Regions from separate parts of the Homo sapiens genome. Here all the other regions are reported to be linked to region 6. Evidence: microRNA targets listed by miRTarBase, many of them from high-throughput screens and not tested one by one. Region 6 holds a microRNA gene; each other region holds the end of a gene's coding sequence.

Region 1 (5,067 bases), not on the chromosome of region 6:
GTGGGTTATATGTCTCAGCCCAAGTCCTTGCAGCTTTTAAAGCCATCCATATTGAGTTCTTTGGTACCGCCTCCAGTTTCTGAATCATCTCCAAGTAGGACTCCCACTTGTAAAAAGTCACCAATAATCACAACATGTAATTCAGCAAAACTTCAGCCAACATCTAGTCAAACAAATCTTGCAAATAATCAGAATCTGAAAGCATCTAAGCTCCGCCCCCCCTCAGGCTCTTTCAAACAAAAACAAACAAACAGCCCCCAACTAGAGCCTCAAAGCTTCCAGGCCAAGACAAGCATCCCAAGGCCACTAACACAACGAAAAGAAATCATGCAGAATCCAAATGGCAATTTGCATTCTGGGGATTGTTTGGCCTCTAATCGATATTCTCGTCTTCCTAAACCAAAGATACATTAAGTACATAGCCATCACCTGCCAATTTGTTTCTTAAAAACAATCTCTTCTGTAATAGCTTTATGTGCAGCTTGCAGCTTGCTACTGTGGTGGAGGTTCCATTGAAAGCCTGCAAATCTTAAATTAAAATGTGGAAGCTTCTACTAGTTTGGCTCCTTCATTTTATATCCTGGTTGAAGTACATGCCATTTGAGCATAATTATCTCAGGTAAACACGAAAGTTTGCTTACCCATTTCAGAGGCCTGCCAAAGGCCCAAATCATGTTATCCATCCCTCTCCACGTCAGAAAATTCATAATATTTTACTGAGCAGGCAAGAAGTGTGCTTTGCTGGTTTAGTCCTATTAAGGTCTGTATTTATTGTGGTTGTCAGAACCTCACCCCTTTTCACTTGTCTCTCCTGTGAATATGGCTACTATTTTAACTAAAGATATGGTGATAATGGAAGATGGTAGTCTGTAAGCAGAGTTCTGGCCAGTGTTTTGTATATTTAAAAGGTCTATGCAAAAGCTTTGTGATGAATAAAGGAGATTAGGCTTTTAATGGAAAGTCTATGTAAGTTTTATTTTTCCTTGCCAGGGTCAGTCAGCTAATGTTACTGTTGATTCATTTCCCAAATTCCCCAGACTGAAAGTGTTTCTTATTACATATAAATCAGTTATATATTCCTTTACATCTTGTTTTACAAACACATGTGCATGCACACACACATATACACACACATACCATTTATGTTTGTATTTGTTACTGGGTAAATTTTGGAGCGCTTGAGATACACCTTGAAACCTGTACCTAAAGATGTATTCATTTGTAACATATGTTGGTGCTAGAGTTTTGCTGGTAATTCAGGCTTGAACCCTTAGGCTTGTGGATCCATGATAGCCATTTTAAGGTTCCACAGCATTATGTCTTTAATTGTAATATTTATATTTATTGATTTTCTGCTAATATCTGAAGACTGAAATAATGAACTTGAAACATTTGCACAAAACTTTGATGGGGTATAAATATACCATATATAGGGATTGTAAACTATTTTCTATAGCAAAACAAGTTAAAATATTTTGAGAAAAATAACAAATTTAAATAAGACTATCTTGAGAAAGCTGGAGTTCATAATATTCTCCCCCTCCCCCATCTCCAGTCTCCTAGGTTTCCCTTTTCTGTGTTTTTTGTTTTTTTCTGTTTGTTTTTTGAGACAGAGTCTTGCTCCATTGCCCAGGCTGGATTACAGTGGCGCAATCTCGGCTCACTGCAACTTCTGCCTCCCGGGTTCAAGCGATTCTCCTGCCTCAGCCTCCTGAGTAGCTGGGACTACAGGCATGTGCCACCATGCCTGGCTAATTTTTTTGTATTTTTAGTAGAGATGAGATTTCACCTTGTTGGTCAGGCTGGTCTCGAACTCCTGACCTCAAGTGATCCACCCACCTCGTCTATGGTGTATTTTTGAAAGACAATTTTTTAAAGGTAGATTTGGGAAAAAAATAGAATTGAAGATGGGAAATTTTGTTTTATTAAAAAGGTGCTAGAAGATGTTTCAAAGACAATATTCTTATTTTAATACGCTGTAGAAGGTAGGTGTGGAACCTCCATGCTACCATGTGCACAAACCTAATTATGCTTTGGGTCACTTGTCAGTTCAGTAAATCTGCCTTCCTCTTCTCCCAAATCATGTCATCTTTAGGTTGTTCACCTGCAGCTGCTTTAAATGAATTAGTATCTTTCAGATAGATAACCTTACAAGGAGAATGTTTGTTTTGAGCAGCTGACCAAAAATATATCAAACAGGATTATGGCCAAAAAGTCACTCAAATTTCTAGAGATTCCTTTAAAAGATGTATGTTGATGAAATTGCCCCTTTATAAGAAAAACAACAGCAAGTCTTTTAGTAGAAATTTGAAAGAAGTGTTTGCTACCATTTTGACCCATTATTCCCTTACCTATCAGATGAATTTGCCATTCACTGGATAGAAACCATTCTTGGATTTGGTAAGAGGTGAGCAAGACAAATCTTGTACCATACTCTTATGTACCAGCACTTCTGATGGAGAAGCAGTGAAGTTCAGAACGTTCTTCACATAGTCCAGATACTGTTAGAGTCAGGCAAATCAGCAAAGCACTTTGTTATGGAGATGACCCATGATGGCTGCAGTTGTAAGTGGGCATACATGTTCTATCATTTTGAAGGAGAAAGAAAACCGTTCTCACATGTTGCAAATATGTGAATCATACTATATTCCCCTAAAGTAAAACCAGTGACTTAGTGGTTTTTGGTTTATTTAGAAGTTGGTTTAGACCCTTATGAAACATTATTTACGAGTTGGCCTTATCCTTAAGGGAAAAGTTCTAAATTTTTAAATTTATTTTTAATTCCCTAGTCTGAGGGAAATGTCTTTATTGTCCATTACATAAAAATGTTGACTCCAGTAATTTATTTTTCTCTATTTTTTCCTCCATGTATTTACTCCATTTTTCTCTATTTTTTCCTTCCCTGATGGATTTGCAGAAATGTTAACCAATTAGCTCAACTTTTCTCTACCTTTGTTGAGTCTTAATCTTTTAGAAGATAGGCTTATCGTATATTTATGAAGCATAATATATTAAAAGAAAACAAATCTAGGATGCTTGCATGACATAAAGTATTTGCCTGCAGTTTTCATTAAAAACTGCAAGAATATCATGCTTGTCTGCTTCTTAGTAAATGTTAAGTCTGAAATGGAAGTGAGGATGTAACTCTACTGAATAATCAAAGATCATCTTAGATTTGGCTTGATCTGTGTTTATTGCTTCTATTAATGTAAATCAACTCTGTGCCAAATCCTCCTCCACAAACCATTTATTGTCTTAGTTCTAGTGGTATCAATGAAGATAGTTACAGTATATGAATTCTAAGTCCTGAGGAAGAAATTTTATGGGGTTTGTTAAGTTTCACATTCGTGAAAGAGGAAATTAGTAGAGTATTCAGACTTTGATATTTGGCTGTTAATGGGATGCATATCAAATTTTTAAAAGAAGGCTTGGCCTAAGGAGTTTATTGGTACAGGTGCAGATGATTTTAAGGCATTAAAGGATTATAGAGTTATGTCATTTAGACTGTTTCTAATAACTGAGACCATCTAACATTTTTCTTTTGGAGTCTCATTTTTATTTGTGCAATATTTTCAGGCATATAGGCTACTGTTCATTGTATTTATATATATATTAGAATTTACTAAGTACTTTAACAAGTAAAAATCTGAATATGAAAGAAAATATCAGATTTGCACTTTAAATGAGCTTAATTGCTTGAAGTTGTGCCTGAAATATCGAATTGCCTCCTATTGGGTGTGGCTTTGTTGAAATAAATTTGTAATTGTTGCTGTTTGAAGATATCAGTACAGCTGTTCACAGAAATATATTCCCAGCATGTCACTTTTCCATTAAAGCACTAAGTTTTCTTTGAATGTTCCATTGTTCCGATAAGTATTTTACTTTTTTCTCAGTACATCAGAGAGAGCGTGATCCCCCTACAGCTGTCACTTCCAAATGTTCCTGTAGCATAAATGGTGTTACAGACACTGAGGTGCACTCTTGGTTTCTGAGCAGAGTTGTCATACTGGTTTCCTGGTCTCTAGGGCACTGGGGATGTACTTTGAAATCACCGAACAGGCTTGCAATTAAGATCAATAAGGCTGCAGCACCATTTCAATTTACTTTCCATCTTACCCAGTAGTTTTTGTGTTTTTAAATTCGTTTGGGTGGTTATGTTTGCATGCTTAAGCACACATTTGAAAATTAATTATAGCTGTACTACCCGATGTTTTTCCTTGGGGATGATGGCCTTGTTCCTTTTTAAATTCTGATGCTTGAATTCTATTTTCTAGTGATTTTTCACATCTCCCTTTAAGTTTTTGCTGCAGCAATTTGAGAGAGTACTTTTGATTAAATGATTCTGATGGTGGGCACCAATCTACAACTATGTCATTAACTGAAGATACATGTTTTAATCTTGTTGGGAATAAGCTTACCCACTTTCTCCTTGGTAAAGCGTTTACTTAACAAAATAATACCCGAGAATGTAAGGTCTCTAAGTCATTACTAACAAAGAGCAAAAATAATATCTGCAGTATTGTTTTTCCCATTGATTTTAAGTCAGTTTAGAGTACAAACTGTATATTAGAATTTGCCTGTAAAATGAATTCTAAAAAGCAGATGTAAAGTCTCTCCTGAAAATGTTGGCATAGTAAATAAAAATAAAGTTCATAATTATAAAAGTTCTCTTGTCTTTCTCAACATTGACTCCCATAGTTTGCTTTTTCTTTGATATCTTTTTTCCCACAAAGATCTAAGATACTGTTCATTTGCTTATGTTTTTCCCAACTCTGATACTTTATTTTACATGCTGCCTTCACACACATCTTGACACCCCAAGCCCTGATTGAGTAGGAGTTGATCAGTATTTTGTTGTTGTGTCTTCACAAATTCTGTAAGAGATCTAGTACTTTCGTTTCCATTGTAATAAAATACCTGCTTTATCTTAGAATATTGGGATAATGGTTAATGGACATTTCAAGAAACATTAGCACCTTGGATTTAGAATGCTGTACAAGGAAGAAAACACTTGTAATTTTAATTATTTTGTCATTGTTTTTAAGCAGTATACAAAATAGCTTGAGG
Region 2 (5,072 bases), not on the chromosome of region 6:
TTTAGTGTCTAGTAAGGTTTGAAAGACAACAACATAGGATCCCTGTGCAAGGTAACACAATTCCCAGTCACTCAATTTGCTTCTGTCTTGGTTTGTTTCAGGCTCACCCAATACACCTCTCCAAGTTCATGTCCTGTGTCTCACCTTGGGCTACTTCATCTTCGACTTGGGCTGGTGCGTCTACTTTCAGTCTGAGGGTGCCTTGATGCTGGCTCATCACACATTGAGTATCTTGGGCATTATCATGGCCCTTGTGCTTGGGGAGTCTGGCACAGAGGTCAATGCAGTCCTCTTTGGAAGTGAGCTTACCAACCCCTTGCTACAGATGCGCTGGTTTCTCCGGGAAACAGGGCACTATCACAGTTTCACTGGAGATGTAGTGGACTTCCTCTTTGTGGCTCTGTTCACAGGAGTGAGGATTGGTGTGGGAGCTTGCCTCCTTTTCTGTGAAATGGTCTCCCCCACGCCTAAGTGGTTTGTGAAGGCTGGGGGAGTAGCGATGTATGCTGTGTCTTGGTGTTTCATGTTTAGCATCTGGCGCTTTGCATGGAGGAAGAGCATCAAGAAGTACCATGCTTGGAGAAGCAGGCGGAGTGAGGAACGGCAGCTGAAACACAACGGACATCTCAAAATACACTAGCCAAGGCTTGCTCCAGATTATGGATTGGGTTAAGTCAGCCATGGGAACCAGGTTGGAAATATGACTGTTACATAATTACACTTATAACAAACTTAGGTTTCAATAAAGGGCTAAATGTATTGATCAATTTGGTCAGTCTTCAAGCCGAGCATATACCAGTATTAAAACACTAACTTCTACAGTAGCACAGTTGTAGAAAGTGAGAATACTCCATGGTAGTTGGGAATAAGTGAGAACTGTGAAGTGAGTACAACTGGCATTTGTTTTCATTTGTGGTGACCCTGGGTCCTCCTGTCCCTGGGAGGTTTGATGTTCAGGCAGTTTAGAAAGGAACTCGAAAAAGATTAGTGCTATTTCTTGTTCCTTTGAGAAGTAACTCTTTCAATAAACACTTATTTCTGCTTTCCATATAGCAATTTATCTAAGTTTACCCCATTTACTATAAAGTGAGGGGCTTACAGGAAGAGACACGCCTTTGACATTCTGAACATTAGATCGGGGAATTGGGTCGCTTAAACAGAGGGGCATAGGAGGGTGAGAGTGAAACTGGCAGTGAGGGGGAGGGCTACTTACTGAACCTCCTATACCAACTGTGCCAGAGGTGCCCAAGACCACTGCCAGGTTCTGTAATTCTCTGGGAAGACTCAGTGGACTCAGCATATAGTCTTACTTATAGTTTTGATTTATTATAGTGAAAAGATACAAAGAAAAATCGGTAAAAGGAAAAGGCACCTGAGACAAAGTCTAGGGTAAAGCAAGCACAAGTTTCCAGAGTCCTCTCCCAATGGAATCACACAGGATGCACTTAATTCCCCTAGCAGTGATTTGTTACGACATGTGAATGAGTTGTCTACTGGACAAGGTCACTACAGACTCAGTGCCCAAAGTTTTTACTGAGGACAGGTCATCTAGGCAGGCTTTCCCTGGCAGATAGCAAAATTCAAGACTCTCAAAAGGAAAGCAGGTGTTCAGCATAAGCCATATTGTTTGCACAAGCAGTTCAGACACAGTAAGCCAGTCTTATCAGTTAATTGTGGGAGCCCCTCCAAAATCTAAGTTCCCAAATGCCGGCCAGTGGCCAACCCTGTAATCAGGCCTCTCCAAGGATAGCAGTTTAGGCCTGCTATGTTAACTCTTTTCTGCACAAAACCTATAGAGTTAGGGCTTTGGATCTGAGATGAATGAAGTGTGGGTAGATTTACTGAGTCCTGTTATATGGGTTCTGCCCTACCAGGAAAACTATGCCAGTTCTCAGGGCTTTTGTGCATTAATCTCCTAGGCATTTGAGGCTATGACTAAATTCCATAGGGATTTATCATGTGGATTCCACTGTGCTTGAGATGGCAGTTTAGATTTCAGCTCTGCTGTACATATTGCAAACTAGAGCCAAAGACTTTAAAGTGTGTACTGGCCTCAGGGGGATGAGGTTAATTTTTTTTTTTCATTTTAGATACTTTCCCTTTTAGTACTCCTCCTACTTTTCTTATTTTTACTAAAAAGGTACCACTCTATGAACAAACTAATAAAACAAGGCCAGTCTTGGAAGGAAAAAAATAATAATTCTTAGTGTGACAGTCTCCAAGAGAAGCAAGAATATAAGCTTAGAACAAGGGGTTAAGAATCCAGAATTCCTGGGTTCTTTTAACTAATTTTGCTACTCACTTGCCACTTTGGAGAGCTACTCACTCACTTTGGATAGGTTACTTGTTTCTTCTTTGCCTGAGTTTAAACCTATTGTGAATGAATGAAATACCCTGTAGTATATTTCATAAATACATTATGTGGCATTTTATTAATGGAGGTCTTTAATGTAGGGCTTTTATGGAAATATGAAGTATTTATGTATTTATTGATTATTTATTTTTACCATGTTATTGAAGTCAATGGTGTTTGATTAGCTCAGTGGGTGAGCAAGCATATGGTGCTACTGGAGTCAAGGCTGGTCAGTAGGAAGCATCAGTCCATTCCATGGCCACTGGTAATCTAACGTAATGAATGGTGTCTTTTGTTGTTGTTGTTGTTGTTGTTGTTGTTTGAGACAGAGTCTTGCTCTGTCGCCCAGGCTGGAGTGCAGTGGTGTGATCTCAACTCACTGCAACCTCCGCCTTCTGTGTTCAAGTGATTCTCCTGCCTCAGCCTCCCGAGTAGCTGGGACTACAGGCGTGTGCCACCATGCCTGGCTACTTTTTGTATTTTTAGTAGAGACGGGGTTTCACCATGTTGGCCAGGCTGGTCTTGAACTCCTGACTTCATGACCCACCCGCCTCGGCCTCCCAAAGTGCTGGGATTACAGGTGTGAGCCACCGTGCCCAGCCATGAGCGGTCTTGAAAATGAAAAATGGTCTTGGCCACAGAAACCAGGTATGAGGGAGTGGTTGGAATGGTATAAAGTCATCACTGTTAGGGAAACAGTAACTTTAAATGCATGTTAACAGTGGGTCTTTAAAAATGAATGTCATTTGGTTAAAGAGTTTTGCTGGGCATTGAGATAATCTGACAGCATCTCCACTTCCTGTTTTTTTTCTTAATCTCCACTTTTTTTTTTTCTATGATGAGCGCCCCTAAAATGCTGGTAAGCTTCTTTCCAACAAAATTGCGGTCAAAGTAGGATGCTGGGGAATGCTGATTTTAGCAAAAGCTTGTAGAAAAGAGTGGCCTGGCACATGAGCTTAAAAAAAAGAAAAAAAGCTGGCTCTTGAATTTTGGCACAGTGCAACCTGTTCCATACCAGACAAATGAACAGGCTTAATCTGGTACCAATTCTTTTTCTCTCTTACTCCTCAGAAGTGAAGGGACTGCAGATCTTGTTGTTTTGGGGACACTTTCATGGAACTGTATGTAGGTTTTTTTGAATGGTGAGAAATCTGAATAATTGGTAAGGGGAAGGGAATCCCTCATTTCAGCTTTTCTTGATGTTGTTACTAATAACTATGAAAAAACTTCTGAGAGAACAATGTGAACTGAAGATGACTCAGCAGTTAAGACAATGCTAAGTTCTGAAACCACAGGTAAATGAAGGGCTAATTAATGTGTGGTATACTTGGACAAAATGAAGTACTCATTTGCACTGGATTACTGTGTAATGATAACGAACACTGTTCAAGAACGATTTATATTTCCATAAGATTTGTACTAAATTTTATAAAAGTAAAACAACTTTTTATAAACCCAGAGTCTGTCTTTATATTTATGTGGTGGTTTTGCCAAGAAGTTAAAAAAAGCCTTTTGACCTGTAGAAATGTTGACCTGTATTCATACTTACTAGTGAATATCTCTAATCTGCTGTTCATTATCCATCATTCCCCCTATTTTTTTTTATTTTGGGGGGTAACAGTTGACATACACAAAACAGTTTGCCAAAAGAGAGAGGAAGAACCTTAATGTGTTTCTTGTTCTGCCACCTGTTTGGACACTTGTCTTGAAAATGTTGATGTCAAGTGAGTTGACATCAGAGACATCATCTGAAGACAGCTGGAGGCCCTGTCTTGAGGACTGTACTACCAATGCCTAAAACAGTCTGGGATGCATAGTAGATACTTAGTAAGCATGTTGAAAGAATGGACAAGAGGATGAGAATGTGGTTTAGAATCATCCCCATTGGAAAACCTCCTCAAAGGTTTTCCCAGTGGATTGGGTCATCAATGTCATTTTTCTAAGTAAAGTACTACGGACCCTGAGGAGTGTGTTCTACCCAGACTGGCTTGACTTTCTGAAGGCATCCTATAGTTACAGCCTTTAGAACAGTTGAGCTATCGGCAGCTTTAAAGAGGCTTTCAGTTTTTTTTTTTTTTAAATCATTAATGCTTTGTAGGTGACTATAGAGATTTTCATCATTTAAAAAAATTAGTTCTGGAATGAATAACCACTGGCTTAATTCAATCTTTTGCTTACCATCTTCTGAAGCTTTCCCACAGCAAAATGCCTTCTTTGCTCACAGCTAGAACCGTGGGTCTGTTTAAGTTTGGAAAGATCTTGAAAGCAGCTTGCCAAGAGGTTTTGTATGCAAGGAAGAGAAGGTGAATTAGGAAACTTTCCCAGTTTGTTTTATTCCTGAAGCTTAAGTATTGAGGCTTCCCTCAAGTATTAAGGGAAGAGAGGAACTCCAAAATGCATGATTTGATGAGTCATTGGGTTCAATTAATTTTATACTTACACTGTAACATTATTAGGATAGGGGAAAATAAGATATTTAGTACTTTTAAGAAAGATTTATTAAGTTTGGGGATAAGGTTTGCATTTTGGTCAGTATATATATGTATATATGTGTGTATATATATGTGTATATATATGTATATATATGTGTATATATGTATATATGTGTGTATATGTGTATATGTGTGTGTGTGTGTATATATATATATATATATATATATATATATATATATATGAATGGGATTCCTTCCGGTTGCATGTAAACACTCAATTTAAGAGT
Region 3 (5,062 bases), not on the chromosome of region 6:
AGGCAAATTGGTCTTACTCTCTTGGAGCTGGAATACACGCTTCCATTCCTGCCCTTGGATTTCAGGATCCCAGGCTGTTGGGTCTCAGGACGCCAGGACCTACACCAGCCTTTCCGTCACCGCTGGGGTTCTAAGGCCTTTGGGCTAAGAATTATATCATCAGCTTTCCTGATTCTGAGACTTTGGGACTTGGACTGAGCCATGCTACCAGTATCCCTGGGTCTCCAGCTTGCAGACAATCTGTTGTGGGACTTCTCAGCCTCTGTAATCATGTGAGCCCTTTCTAACTCATAAACCCTCTCTTATATATCTATGTATCGATTGGCTGTGTCTCTCTGGGGAACCCTGACTACGTATACTTTTGTTTGAATTCAAAGTATTTATCCCTACCTGATATTACATCCTATATCTGTTTGTTTTCTGTTTTTTCCATTAGAATACAAGTTTCATGGGGACAGGGACTTTATGCATTTGTTTACTGCTGTATCTTAGGCTCAAAGTTGGCACTCAATAAATATTGGTTAAATAAGTGAATTACAAGCAGGTTGGATTATTAGGTAATATGGTTCGCAGTGTGGGACTCCTGAACTCCAAGATGTCTTTGAAAGTAGCCATTTTTTTTTAATTTCTAATGGTTTAGTCAGACTACGGATTACTTAATAACAGGGACTATAGTTCATTCATGGATATATCCCCAGAATCAGGAACAGTTTCTAGAATACGCTTGAGTGCTCAATAGACATAGCTATTATAGTTAATTGAAATGGAATTGGCAATGTGGGAAATAAGAAATCACATTTTTGGCCAGGCACAGTGGCTCACACCTGTAATCCCAGCACTTTGGAAGGCCGAGGCAGGAGGATCACTTGAGGTCAGGAGTTCGGGACCATCCTGGCCAACATGGTGAAACCCCATTTCTACTAAAAATACAAAAAGTAGCTAGGTGTGGTGGCGTGTGCCTGTGATCCCAGCTACACGGGAGGCAGAGGTGGGAGAATCGCTTGAACATGGTAGAGGTTGCAGTGAGCCAAAATCATAACACTGCACTCCAGGTTGGGCAACAGAGCAAGACTCCATCTCAAAAAAAAAAAAAAAAATCTGCTGGGCGCGGTGGCTCATGCCTGTAATCCCAGCACTTTGGGAGGCTGAGGCAGGTGGATCACGAGGTCAGGAGATTGAGACCATCCTGGCTAACATGGTGAAACCCCGTCTCTACTAAAAATACAAAAAAGTTAGCCGGGCGTAGTGGCGGGCGCCTGTAGTCCCAGCTACTCCGGAGGCTGAGGCAGGAGAATGGCGTGAACCCGGGAGGCGGAGCTTGCAGTGAGCCGAGATCGCGCCACTGCACTCCAGCCTGGGTAACAGAGCGAGACTCCGTCTCAAAAAAAAAAAAAAAAAAAAAAATTAGCTGGGCATCTTGGCGGACGCCTGTAGTCCCAGCTACTCGGGAGATTGAGGCAGGAGAATGGCGTGAACCTGGGAGGCGGAGGTTTCAGTGAGCCGAGATTGCACCACTGCACTCCATCCTGGGTGACAGAGCAAGACTCTGTCTCAAAAAAAAAAAAAAAAAAAAATCACATTTTTCTCAGAGCAAAGTCTTTGTGATACTAAATCTGGATAAACGCAGTGGAACACTGAGGACGTTTATGCATAAGGACAGTAATCACGAAATTATCTTTGTATACATTGTCCATTAATGACTACTGCTATTTACTGAATTGAGCTCCCTCAGATTCATCTTTTGAAGCCCTAACCCCTAAAGTGACTATATTTGGAAATAGGTGCTTTAAAGAAATAATAGTTAAGGTCAAATGAGGTTATGAGGGTGGAGCCCTAATCTAATAGGACTGGTGTCCTTATAAGAAGAGGAAGAGGCCGGGTGCGGTGGCTCACGCCTGTAATCCTAGCACTTTGGGAGGCCGAGGCAGGCAGATGACAAGGTCAGGAGTTCGAGACCAGCCTGGCCAATATGGTGAAACCCTGTCTCTACTAAAAATACAAAAATTAGCCAGGCATGATGGTGGGCACCTGTAGTCCCAGCTACTTGGGAGGCTGAGGCAGGAGAATTGCTTGAACCTGGGAGGCAGAGGTTGCAGTGAGCCGAGATCCATCGGGCCACTGCACTCCAGCCTGGGCGATAGAGCGAGACTCTGTCTCAAAAAAAAAAAAAAAAAAAAAAAAAAAAGGAAGATGACACCAGAAGTGTAAAAGCAGAAGACAGGCTCTATGAGGACACAGGGAGGAGGCAGCCATCTGCAAGACAGGGAGAGAGGTCTCACCAGAAACCAACCTTGCCGGCACCTTGAACTTCCAGCCTCCAGAACTATAAGGAAATAAATTTCTGTTGTTTAAGTCTGAGTGGCTAAACAACAGTTTAAGCTGCTGTTATGGTAGCCCAAGCAGACTAATACAACGCTTAAGGATTTCAGTCACTGAGTGGAACCACCTTAGAATGTGAAAGACAATGAGGATATACACACAGCCTCCTTCCCCTGTGTTTGGAGGGTGGCTTCAAATTCCTTCTGTTTTATGTGCTGTGTAGGAAAAAAAAAATCTGTAAAATTATGTGAGTTTGTAATTGATAGATTGGTTCTCTTTTGTGCAAATAGTGCTTATAGTTTAAAAGTCCTAGAAAAATTAATTCACAGTCACATTTTCTGTATGCAACTACATTTATGTAAGTGAAAACTTGGTAGTTTGTTAGCTTGTTCATTTTTATTTTTCAAGTATTATGTAAACAAAAAGAACCTTGGTCTGCCAGAATTTTCAAAGAAAATTGGCAAAACAAGATTTCCCATAGTAACAACCATACATATAGCTATGTTCAGTGACTAAATGGTGTTTATGTGTTTCTTAAGCAATGGAGTTCATTTTGACCAATTGTCTGTTAAGAAGTGCCTAAGAAAACCGCTTATTCATTTTCCACATCCTGTTTGGCAAAGTGTGACACATAGCAGTAGAAAACAATAATATAATCTTGGGATGCATATGCAATCAGTGCACAGAGAGCTGTCGTATCAGCCTTCAGAAGAGCATTTAAACACTGCCACACGCTGTCCGTCTGTTTGTCCTGCAACCAGGTTCTCCCCTTGGTCTCAATGGAAGCCTGAATCACAAGCACTGCCACGTTCACAAAGCTGTTAATTCTTCAAAACACCAAATGGTATTCAAAAAGGGAAGTATAGGCTGGGCACGGTGGCTCACACCTGTAATCCCAGCACTTTGGGAGGCCGAGGCAGGCTGATCATGAGGCCAAGAGATCCTGGTGAAACTATCCTAGCCAACATGGTGAAACCCTGTCAAGTAAAAATGCAAAAATTAGCTGGGTGTGGTAGTGCGCACTTGTAATTCCAGCTACTCGGGAGGCTGAGGCAGGAGAATTGCTTGAACCTGGGAGGCGGAGGTTGCAGTGAGCCGAGATTGCGGCACTGCACTCCAGCCTGGTGACAGAGTGAGACTCCGTTTCAAAAAAAAAAAGTATAAAAATCTGAAGACTCTAGTGGTATAATCTAATTAAGTTTCTATGAAGCACATGATTGCAGTCATGTCAAAGCAGTTTCTATGAGCACACTGTTATCTGTTAAAAAAGCAAACAAGGCTGGGCACAGTGGCTCAGGCCTGTGGTTCCAGCACTTTGGGAGGCCGAGGCGGGCAGATCACTTGAGGTCAGGAGTTTGAGATCAGCCTGGCCAACATGGTGAAACCCCATCTTTACTAAAAATACAAAAAATTAGCCAGATGTGGTGGGTGCCTGTAATCCCAGCTACTTTGGAGGCTGAGGCAGGAGATTTGCTTGAACCCAGGAGGTAGAGGTTGCAGTGAGCCAAGATGGTGCCATTGCACTCTAGCCTGGGTGACAGAGTAAGACTACATCTCAAAAAAAAAAAAAAAAAAAAAAAAACAAGGAATAATAATAAATTAACCTTAGCTTACTGGATGACCACCATCATATATGCAGTCTGTTGTTTACCAAGATGTTGTTATGTGGTACATGGCTGTATTTTATTGTTGTATTCTACAGTGCATAATAAATGGTGAGATTCTCCTCAAAGAGTGGCAGAGAAAGGATTCAACTCCATTTTCTCTGACTCCAGTGCCTGCGCGAACATTGGAGACTTTGCTGTCATGAGCGTTTCTCACGTACAAATGCAGGCAACAGTGAGAGGAAGTTGTCTTGTTTTTGAACAGGCCTTGTTTTTCTTGGATGCTTTTGCTTAAAATCCAACAGCCAAATGAGGAAACTGTAAAAGCAAAACAAACATTTTTATTGCAGATGAACCCACATACTGATTTTGGCTTGATCTCTTGAAACAGCCTAAATGTCTCATTACAAAGACCTTAGAAATTCTTTCATAAAATCTGAATTGGAAGAGATCTTGGATATATAGGTTTTATTTCATCTAACGTTTTACATGGATTGTTGATAAATGGCCATCTGGCTTTTATTTGAATGCCTCCAAAGACAGAGGACTCACTACTGCCATATGAAGTAGCTCATTCCATTTGGCAGACAGTTGAGATTGTTAGAAATTTATACTGCACCTCCCCTGGGCCTAGTTAAATTCTTTGGAGAAGTGTAGAGAAAAAGTATTTTTCTTCTACATGCCAGTTTTTTTTTTGGTTTTGTTTGGTTGGTTGTTTGTTTTGTTTGAGATGGAGTTTCGCTCTTGTCTCAGGCTGGAGTGCAGTGATGCAATCTCAGCTCACTGCAACCTCTGCCTCCCGGGTTCAAGCAATTCTGCCTCAACCACCGGAGTAGCTGGGATTACAGGCACCCGCCACCATGCCCAGCTAATGTTTGTATTTTTTAGTAGAGACGGGGTTTCACCTTGTTGGTCAGGCTGGTATCAAACTCCCAAACTCAGGTGATCCACCCGCCTCGACCTCCAAAACTGCTGGGATTACAGGCGTGAGTCACTGCGCCCGGCCTACATGCCGGTCTTTCAAGTGTTCGAAGAGCCTTCTTAGGTCTCCTCTGGCCTTCTCTTCTGCAAGCTGTGCATGCGCTGAGTTCTGAAGTGGTGCCACACCACAGCCTACCATACAACGTCACTGCATGTGG
Region 4 (5,072 bases), not on the chromosome of region 6:
TAGCGAGCGCCGGCTCACCTCACCAGTGCAGTGAGAAGCCGAGGCACAGACTGACAAGGGGAAGCAAAGCCACTGTCAGACAGAGGACACGCGTGTGCACACGGAAACCCCACGAGTCCACAGAAACACCGCCATGGCCAAGGCGGGAGTTTAGGGCACAGGATTAAAGCACCACGCACAGGTGACAAATGAAATAAAAATACACAGTCCTCAATAGCATATCGAACACCTAGGACTAGATCTAAAGGAAAACATGCCAGACACATGCACAGAAAACTCCAGTTCATTGTTGGGAGAAGTTGAAGATGAACTCAATACCTGGAGTCATACATGGCAGTCAACGCATGGACACCGGAGACTGTTGAGACGCCGACTGGAGTCACACACGGCAGTCAACGCGTGGACACCGGAGACTGTTGAGACGCCGACTGGAGTCACACACGGCAGTCAACGCGTGGACACCGGAGACTGTTGAGACGCCGACTGGAGTCACACACGGCAGTCAACGCGTGGACACCGGAGACTGTTGAGACGCCGACTGGAGTCACACACGGCAGTCAACGCGTGGACACCGGAGACTGTTGAGACGCCGACTGGAGTCACACACGGCAGTCAACGCGTGGACACCGGAGACTGTTGAGACGCCGACTGGAGTCACACACGGCAGTCAACGCGTGGACACCGGAGACTGTTGAGACGCCGACTGGAGTCACACACGGCAGTCAACGCGTGGACACCGGAGACTGTTGAGACGCCGACTGGAGTCACACACGGCAGTCAACGCGTGGACACCGGAGACTGCTGAGACGCCGACTGGAGTCACACACGGCAGTCAACGCGTGGACACTGGAGACTGCTGAGACGCCGACTGGAGTCACACACGGCAGTCAACGCGTGGACACTGGAGACTGCTGAGACGCCGACTGGAGTCACACACGGCAGTCAACGCGTGGACACTGGAGACTGTTGAGACGCCGACTGGAGTCACACACGGCAGTCAACGCGTGGACACTGGAGACTGTTAAGACACCGATTCTTCCCAACATGTATTCAAGACATTCAGAAAAGGTATTCAAAAATGCGTTCAAGGGAATTGCTATTGAAATTCCAGAAGGCATGTTTTTTTGGTAGAAATTGAGACACTGATTGTAAAACATATATGGAAACACCAAGGACATAAACAGCCACAAGAATCTTTAAAAAGAAGAGTTGGAAAATGCACATCACCTCGATTCAGGGTTTATTATAAACCCAACTGTAGCCAAGACAGTGTGGCGGCCGGGCACCATGGCTCACACCTACAACCTGTAATCCCAGTAGTTTGGGAGGCTGAGACAGGAGCATCACTTGAGCCCAGATCAAGACCTGCCTGGGCAACATAGTAAAACCCCGTCTCTACAAAAAAAATAAAAATAAAAAAAATAAAATCAGCCGGGTGTGGTGACACACGCCTGTGGTCGCAGCTACTACTCAGGAGACTGAGGCGAGGGGATTGCTGGAGTATGGGAGGTCAAGGGTGCAGTGAGCTGAGATCACGCTACTGCACTCCAGCCTGAGGGACAGAGCAAGACCTTGTCTAAAGTGTGGCAATGGCAAGAGCGTAAGGACAAACAGAAACAGACCCACACAGGTAGGTCAGTTGATTTCTGACAAAGGCGCCAAATTAGGAGAAAAAAGCCTATGCAGCAAATAATCTGAAAGTTAAGGGAGAAATGGATCCTGACTGCAACCCACACTGGAAACGTACACTCCTGAGTAGGGACTGGATACACACGCGGCACACACCCACACAACAGGCCGCCACGCGGCAATCAGGAGTCTGCCGCTGATCCACGCAAAAGCCTGGGTGAATCTCAGATGCTGAGCGAATGTAAGCAGATACACGCAGACATACACAGACGCACGCAAAGACACAGACTGCCCAGAGCCATGCACGTGGAACCCATGGCAGGCGGGAGGTAGGGAGCTGCGGTGGTAGGAGTCAGAATGGGTACCCCTGTGGGACTGGCTCTGCGGAGTGGAGGGCATCACCTACATCCTTCGTGAGTGCGCACCATGACCAGCCACACCCATGGAACTAACACTCGGTATCTGGGTTTTTTGTGTAACTGCCTCCCCTCAACACCATGGTCTCCCACATACAAAAGAGGCCATTATACAGTAAGACACGCTACTCCGCAATTAGACACCACAAAACGCCAGCCAGGCTGTCCATAATTAAAAATACCGAGCACCAAGTCTCAGCAATCCACTAGTGTTCTCCTTCCACCCAGCTGGGAGAAAGAAACACAGTCCAACCACTTTGGAATCATCTCTATACTTGGACAACACGCTTCGTAAGATCCATTAGGTGCTCCTAGAGTTGGCCCCCACCCCCACCCCCACACGAGTGTTCACCACAGCTATTTCCAAGTGAGTGTTATTACCCCAGAAAGGAAGCAACTCAAATATCCACCCACAATAAAGTGCATTAAAATCAGAGCACAGGACAGTCATGCAATGGAATACTATACAGCAATGAAAAGGAACACACTTCTGCTAGATGACAGGGCTGAGTCTCACCAACACACTGAGTACCTTAAGGCTCTCAGGATAATGGGAAAAAAAAGAACCAGAATCCACCCCCCGCCCCACCAGCCACACACACACAAGTCCACAAAGGAACAGGCACCCACATGCTGTACCCTGGGGCCCTTCCAACCCTGATGCGCCAACTCCCGACATGCTGCCTCTAGCCTTGACCTTTCTCAGAAATGATAGCTTAGCGGATGTTTGGCAGATCTCAACAGTCAAGCCAAGATCCAGCTGCAGTCAAAACACAATACGCCTGGTGGAGCCTCTTCCAGGTTCAAACACGGGAACCACGCTCGGAGCTGGACCCGGACCCGAGCCTCTTCCAGGCTCAGACACGGGAACCACGCCCAGAGCCGGACCCGAGCCTCTTCCAGGCTCAGACACGGGAAGGGAACCACGCCCAGAGCCGGACCCGAGCCTCTTCCAGGCTCAGACACGGGAAGGGAACCACGCTCGGAGCCGGACCCGAGCCTCTTCCAGGCTCAGACACGGGAAGGGAACCACGCTCGGAGCCGGACCCGAGCCTCTTCCAGGCTCAGACACGGGAAGGGAACCACGCTCGGAGCCGGACCCGAGCCTCTTCCAGGCTCAGACACGGGAAGGGAACCACGCTCGGAGCCGGACCCGAGCCTCTTCCAGGCTCAGACACGGGAAGGGAACCACGCCTGGAGCCAGACCCGAGCCTCTTCCAGGCTCAGACACAGGAACATTCTCGGAGCCGGACCTGAGCAACCGCCAGTCCATCAGCTATGGTCAGAGGAAGGCCTCCGTGGCTGTCTCTCCCCCATGAGATGGGGCATTTACACAGCACACTTAGGGACACGGAGGCCCTGCAGGTTTGGTGAGGTCTCCCGAGGTCCCTGAGCTGCAGAGGTGAGAGTTGAAAGACGCTGCCCCCAGGCCACAGTCTCTGACTGTCCACAGAACCACACGCTCCACATCTTCCCCTCAAACTCAACTCAAGCGCTCTTGGCTTTAAATCAGGCCGGGCCGTCTCACGGGAAAAGGAGGTTGGCTGCAAAGACCCACAGGGCCCAGAGGGGAAGCTGGCTATGACGCGATCCCTTCAAGAGCACTGGCTCCGGCCCCAGCCACCAGGACACTTAGTGACCAGCCAACAAGCGGGTGGTTTAAATACTGCACTCTATTTTTTAAGGACTCTGTGCATGGTATTTCCGGTGGCAGATGTGTAAGATTTTTTATGTAAATCGTGTTGTTTTAGCAGAGGACTATCAGACCTGACAGCAGCTGGACATCGAGGTCCTCACTGGGGTGGTGACTGCCACGCTGATGCTGAGTGGAAGCCAAGCCCCTTCAGTCAGAGCTGGGCCGATCTCAGACCCAAATGCTACCACCACCAAGCCCTGTGTCGCGACGGCAGCGGCTGCAGTCACCAGAAACAATCCTTCCTGCCTCGACACCCGTGCCAGCCCCAGCCACCCTGACGGCGGGCTGTCCACGGAAATGCCACGGCCAAGAGCCCAGGTCCTTCACGCTGGCCTCTTCCCTGCCGGGCTGGGCTCCCCAATGCCTTCAGAGTTCGTTGTGCCGAGCTCTGGAGATCCTGCCGGACAGGTCCTGCAGATGCTTCTTCACCTGTGGACAGAAACGTCTCATCAGCTGGGGACAGCGCGCCTCGAGGCCAGCTCTGTGAGCTCAGCCTCATGTCAGGAGACGCGCGATCCAAAAGGAAAAGGCGCAAGCCCTGCACATCTGACTTTCCAATTCCACACCCATCCAGAAATGCTCAAATCACAAAAGCAGCTCAGTACTAACTAGAAAATCCCACCAAAGAACGCTAAGAGCCACCAGCCAGGAGCAGTTCATGCTGAAGTGGAAAGCTCAGGGTCTCTGTGATAGGCCCATGGTGTTATTTATTTACTTACTGAAAGGGTCTCGCTCTGTCACCCAGGCTGGAGTGCAGTGGCATGATCTCAGCTCACTGCAACCTCTGCCTCCCAGGCTCAAGTGATCCTCCCACCTCAGCCTCCCATGTACTTAGGACTACAGGTGCCCACCGCCACGCCCGGCTAATTTTTTCTACTTTTGGTAGAGATGGGGTTCTACCATGTTGCCCAGGCTGGTCTCGAACTCCTGAGCTCAGATGATCCACCCACCTCAGCCTCCCAAAGTGCTGGGATTACAGGTGTAAGCCACTGTGCCCAGCCCCACAGTGTTATTTTTAAAAGCAATGACCAGAGAGACTGGGACAGAGCTCTGGGAAAGGCGCCTTCCTCCTCAGGGCCTGGGAGGGAAGGAGAGGGACCTCCAGCTCCTCACATCACAACAGCCCAGAGCATCCCCACAGATACCACCCCAGTGGCAGCAGGTGCTGCGTCAGCCCAGCCTGGGCTGGGGTCACTGTAGCTCTCCCCAGATTCTCACAAAACCCTGCTCGTGGGCGCCACCTCCCTCTCCACATAGAAGCCCGTGGCTCAGGGTGAATAACTCACCGAAGGTCCCTTCTCTCAGCGGCCCTGACCTCTGCCCCAACGGTG
Region 5 (5,059 bases), not on the chromosome of region 6:
CTCTAGCTTCCCCAGGGGCTCCTCAGCCACCTCCTGTGACTCCAGAGCGCTCGTTCTCAGCCTCTGGGGCCCAGATAGTGTCCAGGTGGCCTCCTCTGCCTGGCACCCTCCTGACGGAAGCTTCAGCACTTTCCATGATGGACCCCAGCCCCTCGAAGACCCCCATCACCCTCCTCGGGCCTCGCGTGCTTTCTCCCACCACCTCTAGACTCTCCACAGCCCTTGCAGCCACCACCCACCCTGGCCCCCAGCAGCCCCCAGTGGGGGCTTCTCGGGGGGAAGAGTCCACCATGTAAGGAGGTCACTGTGTCCGGGAGACTCTGGAGAGAGGACCTCTGCCAGTGGCCCAGGGTGTGTGCAGGGCAGCTCCAAGGATGAACCTGGTGGGGATGCCTGGGCTCCCTCCTGCAGGGGCCCTGGTGAGGATGGAAGACCCCCAAGGCTGGATGTAACCTTGTTCCCAAGAAGTGTTTGGAATGTGCTGTAAGAATGGAGGAAGTCGTTTCCACTGTCAGCATCCTCCCTGGACCGCGTGGCTGGCTCATCTTTTGAGAAGGGTTGGGACTGCCAAGTTCTCCTGGAGGAAGAGTTGCGTCCGGCTGGGATTCCACTCACTGGGACTGTACCGCCAGGTGTCATGCGTCTCTCTGAGGTTTCCTGATTAAAGGTTGTCTCGGTTTCCCCATGCTGCACTGCTCATTCACCGCTTACCTGTGGGAAGGTGGGAAACGTGACCCCAAGCCCACAGGTGGTAAGTGAGCATCCACCTTTACCCCACTGCTGGGGAGAAAAGCTGGCACCAAATTGTGACTGGGCTGGGGAAGGGTCTCCTGTAAGCACTTGGCGGCCTTTTATATTGGGAGACTTCTTTTTATTTTTTTCCCCAAGATCATGATTTTCTTTTCTGTTTTCTTTTTTCTTTTTTTCACTTTTATTTTAAGTTCAGGGGTACATGTGCAGGTTTATTATATAGTTAAACTCGTGTCACAGGGGTTTGTCATACAGATTATATTATTTCATCACCCAGGGATTAAGCTTAGTACCCATTAGTTATTTTTCCTAAGTCTCTCCCTCTACCCTCCCTCCACCCTTCCATAGACCCCAGTGTGTGCTTTTCGTGTCTATGTGTCCATGTGTTCTCATCATTTAGCTCCCACTTACAAATGAGAACATGCGGTATTTGGTTTTCTCTTCCTGCGTAACTTTGCTAAGGATGATGGCCTCCAGCTCCATTCATGTTCCTGCAAAGGACATTATCTCATTCTTTTTTATGGCTGCATAGTATGTACACCATGGAATACCATACAGACACTGGGGGGCTTCCACAGTGAGAAGGGAAAAGATGATGGAGAGGACTTGCTTCTGGGAAGGAACCTCTGAGACGAAATGACAGACCAGCAGTTTCTTTTTTGAGATGGAGTTTCGCTCTTGTTGCCCAGGCTAGAGTGCAATGGCAAGGTCTTGGCTCACTGCAACCTCTGCCTCCTGGGTTCAAGCGGCTCTCCTGCCTCAGCCTCCTGAGTATCTGGGATTACAGGTGCCCGCCACCACACCTGACTAATTTTTTGTATTTTTAGTAGAGTTGGGGTTTCACCATGTTGGCTAGGCTGGTCTCGAACTCCTGACCTCAGGTGATCTGCCCACCTTGGGCTCCCAGAGTGCTGGGATGACAGGCCTGAGCCACCGCGCCGGGCCGGGCCAGCAGTTTCTTAAGACGTGTTTTCAGCAGGAACACCTGTGGGCAGCGGGGAAGGAGCAGGGAGGGAGAGTTGGGGCTGCTGGGCCTTCTCGAAGCCTCAGCCAGCCCCCTCTGGGAGCTCTGGGGTTAGGCTGGCCCTTCGGAGCTGTCCTGAGCTGGAGCTACGGGGCAGGGCTTTCTGCCTCATATTGACCAGAGAGCTGCTATCAACCACCTTCCCAGCAGCTGGGAGACTGATCCTTCAGTCCTAGTGGGGGGATCTGGGCAGTGTAGCACAGTGTGCATGAGAGACGGAAAGAGGACAGTGCCGTCATGAATGGGGGGATGCGGATTTGTGATAAGGGAAGTGATGTGGGGCTGGAAAGCAGAAGCTGCTCTGTCACCAAGTCACCACTTGCTACCATTTTTTTTTTTTTGAGACAGGATGTTGCCCTGTCATCCAGGCTGGAGTGTAGTGGCATGATCACGGCTCATTGCAGCCTCAACCTCATGGGCTCAAGCCTTCCTCCCACCCCAGCTTCCCGGGTGGGTGGGATTAGAGGCACATGCCACCACGCCTGTCTAACTTTTAAAAAAATTTTGTAGAAATAGGGTCTCGCTGTGTTGCCCAGACTGGTCTTGAACTCCTAGGCTCAAGCGATCCTCCCACTTCAGCCTCCCTGAGTACTGGGATTACGGGCCTGCAGCCCCACACTTGCTACCACTGAAACCCATGGAGGCTGCGGAGTGAAAGCACCCCCGGGCATGGCCCATCGCTTTGCCGAGGCCGCCCTCTTCTGAGCCCTTCTCTGACCTGCTACTCACTCTGTGTCCCAGGGCGAAGGGTCTGCTGAAGTGTTTCCTGGCTGCAAAGGCAACCTGGTATCCAGTCCAGACGACAGTGTAGTCCTGGCCTCTAACCTGCGGCTGGTGGCAGGAATAATAAATGTGGGAGATAGGAGCATGGAAACCAAACAGTTTAGAGAGGCAAAGGACTTAGAGGCCGTTTTGTCCAGTAAGATACAAAGGGTCATGGTCATGAGCGGGGTCTGCAGCCAATGAATCTCAAGTTGGAGCCTTGCTCAGCTGGACTAGCTGTGGGATATTAGGTCTCTGCTCCCTTATTATTATTATTTTTTGAGACAGAGTCTTGCTTTGTCACCCAGCCTGGAGTGCAGTGACATGATCTCGGCTCACTGCAACCTCCACCTCCCAGGTTCAAGCGATTCTCCTGCCTCAGCCTCCCGAGTAGCTGGGATTACAGGCACACGCCACCATGCCCAGCTAGTTTTTGTATTTTTTGTAGAGATGGGGTTTCGCCACGTTGGCCAGGCTGGTCTCAAACTGACCTCAGGTGATCTGCCTGCCTCGGCCTCCCAAAGTGCTGGGATTACAAGCATGAACCACCGCGCCAGGCCTCTGCTCCCTTATTTGGACAATGGGGATAATAACAGGCCTACTTTATGGAGTTGTGACAATGACGTGTGATAATGCCTCCATAAGTCTCAGTGGTTTGCACTTGTGGCCCTGTGGCCCCTAAACTTGCTACAGCCCACCCGGCTTGGTGATGCCACGTGGGGTCTGATTTCAGGATAAAAGCGTAGAATTCTCATTGCCCCCATGCTGCAACTTTTCAAACAAGTCCATCTGTCAAAATGGTAGTGGCTAAAAATTAGTGCCAATTTCCTCATTGCTGTTCCTTTATGCAATAAGTTAGCATGCAATTTAAGTTTAATACTAGTCCCCCCCACCTGCCTCTGCAAATAGGACTCATGTCAATGATGTTCATTTTGAATGTTTAAAAAAAAGGAGTCCGGGTGTGGTGGCTCATGCCTGTAATCCCAGCATTTTGGAAAGCTGAGGTGGGCGGATCACGAGGTCAGGAATTCAAGACCAGCATGACCAATATGGTGAAACCCCATCTTTACTAAAAATACAAAAATTAGCCAAGCGTGATGGTATGTGCCGATAGTCCCAGCTACTCAGGAGGCTGAGGCAGGAGAATCGCTTGAACCTGGGAAGCAGAGGTTGCAGTGAACCAAGATCGCACCACTGCACTCAGAGCCTGGGTGACAGAGCGAGACTCCATCTCAAAAAAAAAAAAAGATTGGTTGGGGGTGGGGCAGGGGGACAGCTGTAAACACTTTTCCCAAGTTTTTCCGAGTATAAAAACATGTTTAACTGGACTGTTCCCCACCCAATATTACAGCTGAGAAGCAGAGGCTCAGAGAAGTTAGGAGAGTGTTCTAAGGCTGCACAGATTATGACGGCTGAATGGGAAGACAGCCTCATTCGTCTGACTCCCAGTCCAGGTGTTTTTCCTTCGCTTCACATTTCACCTGATGAGGTTCTCCTGTTGGTGTTTGGAGAGACAGCTGATGGCCCACAGTTTAGGAGGGGCCCTGTGAACACTATTTTAGTTTGGGTTCCCCCTAAAGCAGACCCAGAGATAGTATTCGGGTGAGAGCCAAGAGAAAAAGACCAATCAAGGGGCATTGATGAGCCGGTTGCAGCTATGGGCAATTGGCACTTTGTCCTAGGGACCTTCTGGAAGACTGTGGAGCCCATGCCTTGCCTGAGGATTGTCCCCCAAGGGTGTGAAGATGCACCAGTAGTTGTCCCTCAACTTTCGTCCCTCACTGGTCGAGCCTTGTCCTGGGCTTTTGGCTCTCTAGCACACCCTGCTGGCCTTGCCATAGTACTGAGCCTGCCTTTCTGCTTGTCCCCAGGCACCAGAAGGCTCTTGGGGCAGAGGTGCAGGAGCCATGGGTGGAGGGCTGGGTCAGGGCTCTCACTGGGCCATGTAAGCACATGTTCTGTGCACGGTAAACCGCAGTGCACCAGGAGGCAGGAGTCCACCTGAAGCCCCCAGCGGGGCGCGCAGTGCCTTTAATGGGATAAGCTGCTCTGAATTCTCGGGAGCCTGTGCTCCAACAAGCAAGGGAGTGTTTGTTCTTGGATGGAGACACCTTGCATTTTTCCTGAGCTAGGATTCCACTTTTAGGGTTCTGAGAAACAGAACAGAATGGGGGTGTGTCGGAAGCTTATTCTGTGGCCTCAGTTTCCCTTGCACCTGGCAGCTTCTCAAAGGGCAGAATGATCAGACCTGTTTCAAGAGACCTGATTTTAAAGGTTATTAGATGCATGGCCTGAAGGCAAGTCACGGTAGGTTTCTAAGTAGGACAAACTTACAGAGGCTCAAAATCGCTGTAATTCACTTTTTTTTTTTTTTAACTTACCCTCTTTTTAAGATCTTTCCGAGGCTGGGAGTGGTGGCTCACATCTGTAATCTCAGCACTTTGGGAGGCCGAGGTGGGTGGATCATGAGGTCAGGAGTTCCAGACCAGCCTGGCCAACATGGTGAAATCCCGTCTCTACTAA
Region 6 (5,072 bases):
GAATCTTTAAACTATGTCACTGCCCGGTGGGAAATCAGGTCCCCATGCTGTGCTCAGCCCACACACTGGAGATCTACAGACCAGAACCTGCAAGGAGACTGAGGCAGTTTCAGAAAAAGTGACCTTACAACTCCAGAGATCAGATACTGATTCAGTCCTGTAGACATAATTGTCCCATTGGCCAGGTGCAACAGCTCATGTCTAATTCCAGCTCTTTAGAAGGCCAAGAATTTTTACACCAACCTTAAGGTGCCGCCTGAACACAAAAAAATTATCTACTCTATGTACTACTATCTATCTACCCCAGAAGGGGTATTCATGCATAGACCCAGCTACTGAAGCTGAGGAAAAATGCTTGAGTCCAGGAAGTGGAGGCTACACCTAGCTCGACAGAACCGCTACATTCCAGCCTAGATGACATGATCGTCTACAAAAAAGAAACTAAAAATGGCCCACCATTACCACGTAAAACTGTGCCTTAAGCTTTCTGCAATCCCAGCACTTTGGGATAAGAGATTGTTTAGGTTTCAAGACCAGATTGGGCAACATAGTGGGATCCTATCTCTAAATTTTTTAAAAAGTTATTTACCCAATATTCTTTATATGTCTGCATTCAGTCCTGTTTCCACAGCTGCTTCTGAAGCAAACAGCCCTGCTTACAAACCACCCCCACCTACACCCTGCTGGCCATACAGGCTAAACCCTAAACAAGCTTAAGAAACTCAACTAAAGGCTGGGCGCAGTGGCTCAAACCTGTAATCTCAGAATTTTGGGAGGCCAAGGTGGGTGGATCACTTGAGGTCAGGAGTTTAGTGAGACCAGCCCGGCCAACATGGGGAAACGCCATCTGTACTAAAAATCCAAAAAAAATTAGCTGGGCATGGTGGTGGGTGCCTATAATACCAGCTACTCGGGAGGCTGAGGCAAAAGAATCGCTTGAACCTGGGAGGTGGAAGTTGCAGTGAGCCAAGATCATGCCATTGTACTCCAGTCTGGCGACAGAGCGAGACTCCATCTCTTTAAAAAAAAAAAAAAACAAAAAAAAAAACACAAAAACAAAAAACCCTCAACTAACAATCCCCAAGCTGCCCGTAGAAAAGATGACAGGAGGCCCAGGTAGGTCAAATATAAAGAGAAGTCTTACTGGTTACCGTGGCGGACTCCCCACCAGTGGTGGCGGTATTGGGACAGAGGCTACAACTGCTTTATGAATTGCGGGTACAAATAGCAAAACAAAACTCCCTTGAATTTGAGATCTTACTTCAGTTCAGATACTGTGGAGTGGGCAAAGCAGCCGCAAGGGTTTGGAACACCTACAGGGGATAGGAAAACTTACAGGGGATAGTGGCCAGCAGACCCGGAAACCAGTGATAGGGCAAACAGCAACTAAGAACCTACTGAAGGCCCCACGTGGTGGCTCACGCCTATAATCCCAGCACTTTGGGAGGCCGAGGTGGGTGGATCACCTGGGGTCAGGAGTTCCAGAGCAGCCTGGCCAACGTGGAGAAATCCCATCTCTAAAAAATGCAAAAAATTAGCCAGGCGTGGTGGCTTATGCCTGTAATCCCAGCTACTTGGGAGGCGGGGGCAGGAGAATCGCTTAAGCTGGCAGAGGTTGCAGTGAACCAAGATTGCGCCATTGCGCTCCAACCTGAGCGAGAGCACGAGACCATCTGAAGCAAAAAAACCTTCCAAATATGAACTTAGGCCTGGCACTGTGGCTCACACCCATCATCCCAGGGAGGCCACCCAGGGCAAGACAGTAAAGCCCCATCTCTACTAAAGGAGGGATGTTTGATTCCCCCTAAGTTTCAGACCAAGCTGGCCAATGTATGAGACCCCAATTTCTACTAAACATTAGTGGAGCATGGCGGGGACACTCCTGTGGTGCCAGCTACTAAGGGTGGGGTGAGGGGGGGCTTATATGGGAAGATCTTTTGATCTAGGGAGCTCAGGCCTGCAGGGAGCTGTGATGGTGCCACCACACTTCAGCCTGGGTGGTTTTTATTTTTTGAGACAGTTATCGCTGTCACCCAGGCTGGAGTGCAGTGGCACAACCTCGGCTGGCTGCAAGCTCCACCTCCCGGGTTCATGCCCTTTCTGCCTCAGCCTGTGACTACAGGCACCCACCGCCATGCCCGGCTAATGTTTTTGTATTTTTTAGTAGAGATGTGGTTTCACCGTGTGAGCCAGGATGGTCTTGATCTGACCTCATGATCAGCCTGCGTCGGCCTCGGCAGTGCTGCCACTGTGCCCGGCCTTACTTTTTAAACTTGTTTGAAGTTTAAAGAGCAGAACTCTCAAAGAGCATAACTCTAAGTTCTAGCAGGGGTAGAAGGGAAGCACAAAATACTGACAAGTATTTTTAGGCAATGTACTTGGGTCATAGAAGAAGGTTCAGTAACGCCAGACATGAGGCTCATGCCTGTAATCCCAGCACTTGTGGGTGGCAGAGGAACCCAATAGACCAGAAACACATGATGTTGTTCACATTTTATTAAAAAAAAAAGTTAGGAAAAGTGAGACTGTGGCATTGTCCGTGTAGCAGGGTGGAAGCACTCCAGCCCATGCTCTGGCCAAACCCACTTCAAGCCTTACATGCATGCTGCCTACCAAATTCAGGAACAGGACCCCAAATTCCCTTTAAGGCCAACCAGATTCCCCCGACACCCCATCAAGCTTTTCCTGCCCTGTTCATCTGCAGGTGAACCCCGTATCCTGCCCACCCCAGAATATGCCAATTTTTATTATCTAAAATGGAGCATACAGACTGGTGCCCCGCAGAGAAGCCCGGGAACTCCAGGTCATAGCTGAAGCTGCAGTCAGACCCGCAGGCTCCCTTGAAGCAGGATGGTTCGTGATGCCCTACTCAAACAGGGACACCCCAAAATCGAAGCACTTCCCAGTACAGACAAAAAGGAAAGCGCCCCCATTTTGAGTATCCCAGTATGAGCTCCTCGCGAGGATCTGCCATCACTGTGACTTTCTTGCCTACAAGAGGTTGGCCTCCAATCATCCAAGCACATGTTAAATGTCAGCAATAAACTTGCTTGCTATGGGGGAAGAGGAAAGTTACATATCAATTATAACACCAACAGCAAAAAGCATTCCTTTCTTTGTGCATACAGCCCCTTGGTCACAGCTGCTGTTTTTTTTTTTTTTTTTCTTTGAGAATGAGTCTTGCTCTGTCGCCCAGGCTGGAGTGCGGTGGCGCGATCTCGGCTCACTGCAAACTCCGCCTCCCGGGTTCACGCCATTCTCCTGCCTCAGCCTCCCAAGTAGCTGGGACTACAGGCGCCCGCCACCACGCCCGGCTCATTTTTTGTATTTTTAGTAGAGACGGGGTTTCACCGTGTTAGCCAGGATGGTCTCGATCTCCTGACCTCGTGATCCGCCTGCCTCGGCCTCCCAACGTGCTGGGATTACAGGTGTGAGCCGCCGCGCCCGGCGCAGGCGCACAGCCGCCCTCTGAACCTTCTCTTCCTTTCACCATCTAACCCAGATTCCCTTAGTTGTGTCAGGTGAGAGCCCAGGAGGCCCCCTTCCCTTCCCCAGGTTTTCCGGAGCCATTACAGCCAGACGCTGTAAGGGACCTGTACCCAAGACAGTTTCCGGCTGGGAATCGAAACCACAGGCTCTTTAGTTCCTGCAGAAGACCGAGCTCCACGGCATCCGTTGATATGGGCGTCACCGGTGACGCTCAAATGTCGCAGCACTTTCCACTTGGACATCAGAATAGTGCTCCACATTTGAGGCCCACAGGGTGAGCAGCTCCATCTGCAAGAGCCCCGGCCAAGAAATTTATATCACGAGGAAACGGCCATAGGCAGGGTCTAGGGCCATCCTGCTACCCGCCCCCTCACCCAATCAAAATGGTATCTTCTCCGCAGGTTGAGTCTTCTCAAGCGGTAACACTCAAAAGATGGCGGCACTTTCACCAGAGAGCAGAAAGTGCCCCCACAGTTTGAGTGCCACAGGCTGAGGGGATGCGGCAAGGCGGCGATCGCAAGTGGAAGCACTTACCCATCAGAAGAGGCTTTTAAGCAAGGAGGTGGAGAGTAGCCCTTGATGAGCTGTTGAAGGTCTACAAAGCACGAATTTAACGACCCTTTCTTAAAAAGTAAAAAACAAGGCTTTCCACGTATAGATATTCAAAGCACTCCCCCGCCCATAGCCTCCAGATGCAAGCCATGAGGACTGAGTACAATGCAAGTAGGAAGGAACACGTGTGAGGGACAGTGGGGCCTTCGTCCTTAAGACTGAAAAAAAATCACAGAAATAGAACAAAAGTACAGCCCGGCTGGGCGGAGTGGCTCAAGCCTGTAGTCCCAGCTACTCGGAAGGCTACGGTGGTAGGATTGCTCTTGAGCCCAGGAGTTCGAGACCAGCTTGGATAACATAGAAAACCCCATCTCTCCTAAAAAAAAAAAAAAAAAAGCAGAAAAACGCACATGGGAATGGTGGTGCGCGCCTGTGGTCCCAGCTACTGGAGGCTAAAAGGGTGAGTCCCAGGAGGTCGAGGCTGCAAGGCGCCATCATCCTACCTGTGCACTTCATCCTGGGCGACAGTGAGATCCTGACCCTAAAAAATAAAGTAAAATGAAAGAAAATAAAATAACATAGCAATACTCACAGAGGCCAATGATACGTCCACACCTCAGGTCTGCCAGAAAGAACAAGGTTCACTGCAGCTGCGTTCTTATATAGGGTGAGAGCCCACTCAACTTTGATAGGATTAAAGCCCACCCCTTCCCACCCTCTCATTCCCCCTGGTCTCCGCCCCAAGCCACCCTGCTCCCTTTGATCCTAGCTTGCCTTAGTCAGACACACCTTCATAAACTTTTTCAAACACTGATTCAAATAGAAATTAGGTGATCCCTATTACTAGTAACGCCAACATGTATTCGTTATAAATACATTGGAAAACACAGAGAAATAACCAGAAGAAAATCATTCCACCAGTCATCCACTCAACAAATATTTAAATATAGTATTTTGGCAGAGCGCAGTGGCTCACACCTGTAATCCCAGCACTTTGGGAGGCCGAGGCGGACGATCACTTGAGGCCGGGA

What was found. Region 6 holds the annotated microRNA hsa-miR-372-5p (CCUCAAAUGUGGAGCACUAUUCU, at 3,733-3,755, opposite strand). A microRNA usually pairs through its seed, bases 2 to 8, with sites in the 3' UTR of a target mRNA and lowers its output. Matches are read on the target gene's strand: a 7mer-m8 pairs with bases 2 to 8, a 7mer-A1 pairs with bases 2 to 7 and ends in A, and an 8mer does both.
Region 1: the mRNA of CCSER2 is a reported target of hsa-miR-372-5p. Seed matches in the 3' UTR shown: 7mer-m8 at 599-605, 7mer-A1 at 1,475-1,481, 7mer-A1 at 1,604-1,610 and 8mer at 4,313-4,320.
Region 2: miRTarBase lists TLCD5 as a target of hsa-miR-372-5p. Seed matches in the 3' UTR shown: 7mer-A1 at 1,005-1,011, 7mer-m8 at 1,922-1,928 and 7mer-A1 at 2,673-2,679.
Region 3: miRTarBase lists RHD as a target of hsa-miR-372-5p. Seed matches in the 3' UTR shown: 7mer-A1 at 3,873-3,879.
Region 4: miRTarBase lists LRPAP1 as a target of hsa-miR-372-5p. Seed matches in the 3' UTR shown: 7mer-m8 at 2,443-2,449.
Region 5: miRTarBase lists VWCE as a target of hsa-miR-372-5p. Seed matches in the 3' UTR shown: 7mer-A1 at 548-554.

Annotation. Positions count from the first base shown.
Region 1 is chr10:84,513,854-84,518,920 of GRCh38, forward strand. CCSER2 (coiled-coil serine rich protein 2) reads left to right here. Exons shown (of 10, transcript NM_001284240.2): 10 at 1-4,664. The coding sequence ends at 414. Among named protein-coding and RNA genes, the nearest start is that of CCSER2, 190 kb to the left of the region's middle. RefSeq lists an enhancer at 560-729.
Region 2 is chr11:120,329,876-120,334,947 of GRCh38, forward strand. TLCD5 (TLC domain containing 5) reads left to right here. Exons shown (of 3, transcript NM_001198671.2): 3 at 102-3,811. The coding sequence ends at 640. Among named protein-coding and RNA genes, the nearest start is that of ARHGEF12, 4.0 kb to the right of the region's middle.
Region 3 is chr1:25,328,077-25,333,138 of GRCh38, reverse strand. It overlaps RHD (Rh blood group D antigen), which reads right to left. Exons shown (of 10, transcript NM_016124.6): 10 at 2,694-4,241. The coding sequence ends at 4,215. It also overlaps a transcript of RSRP1 not described here. Among named protein-coding and RNA genes, the nearest start is that of TMEM50A, 7.7 kb to the left of the region's middle.
Region 4 is chr4:3,508,867-3,513,938 of GRCh38, forward strand. LRPAP1 (LDL receptor related protein associated protein 1) reads right to left here. Exons shown (of 8, transcript NM_002337.4): 8 at 1-4,170. The coding sequence ends at 4,108. Among named protein-coding and RNA genes, the nearest start is that of LRPAP1, 21 kb to the right of the region's middle. RefSeq lists an enhancer at 1-1,182.
Region 5 is chr11:61,253,912-61,258,970 of GRCh38, reverse strand. VWCE (von Willebrand factor C and EGF domains) reads left to right here. Exons shown (of 20, transcript NM_152718.2): 20 at 1-685. The coding sequence ends at 296. Among named protein-coding and RNA genes, the nearest start is that of PGA5, 15 kb to the right of the region's middle.
Region 6 is chr19:53,786,578-53,791,649 of GRCh38, reverse strand. It overlaps MIR372 (microRNA 372), which reads right to left and starts at 3,760; the gene lies at 3,694-3,760. It overlaps MIR371A (microRNA 371a), which reads right to left and starts at 3,975; the gene lies at 3,909-3,975. MIR371B (microRNA 371b) reads left to right here and starts at 3,908; the gene lies at 3,908-3,973. MIR373 (microRNA 373) reads right to left here and starts at 2,945; the gene lies at 2,877-2,945. It also overlaps LOC124904767.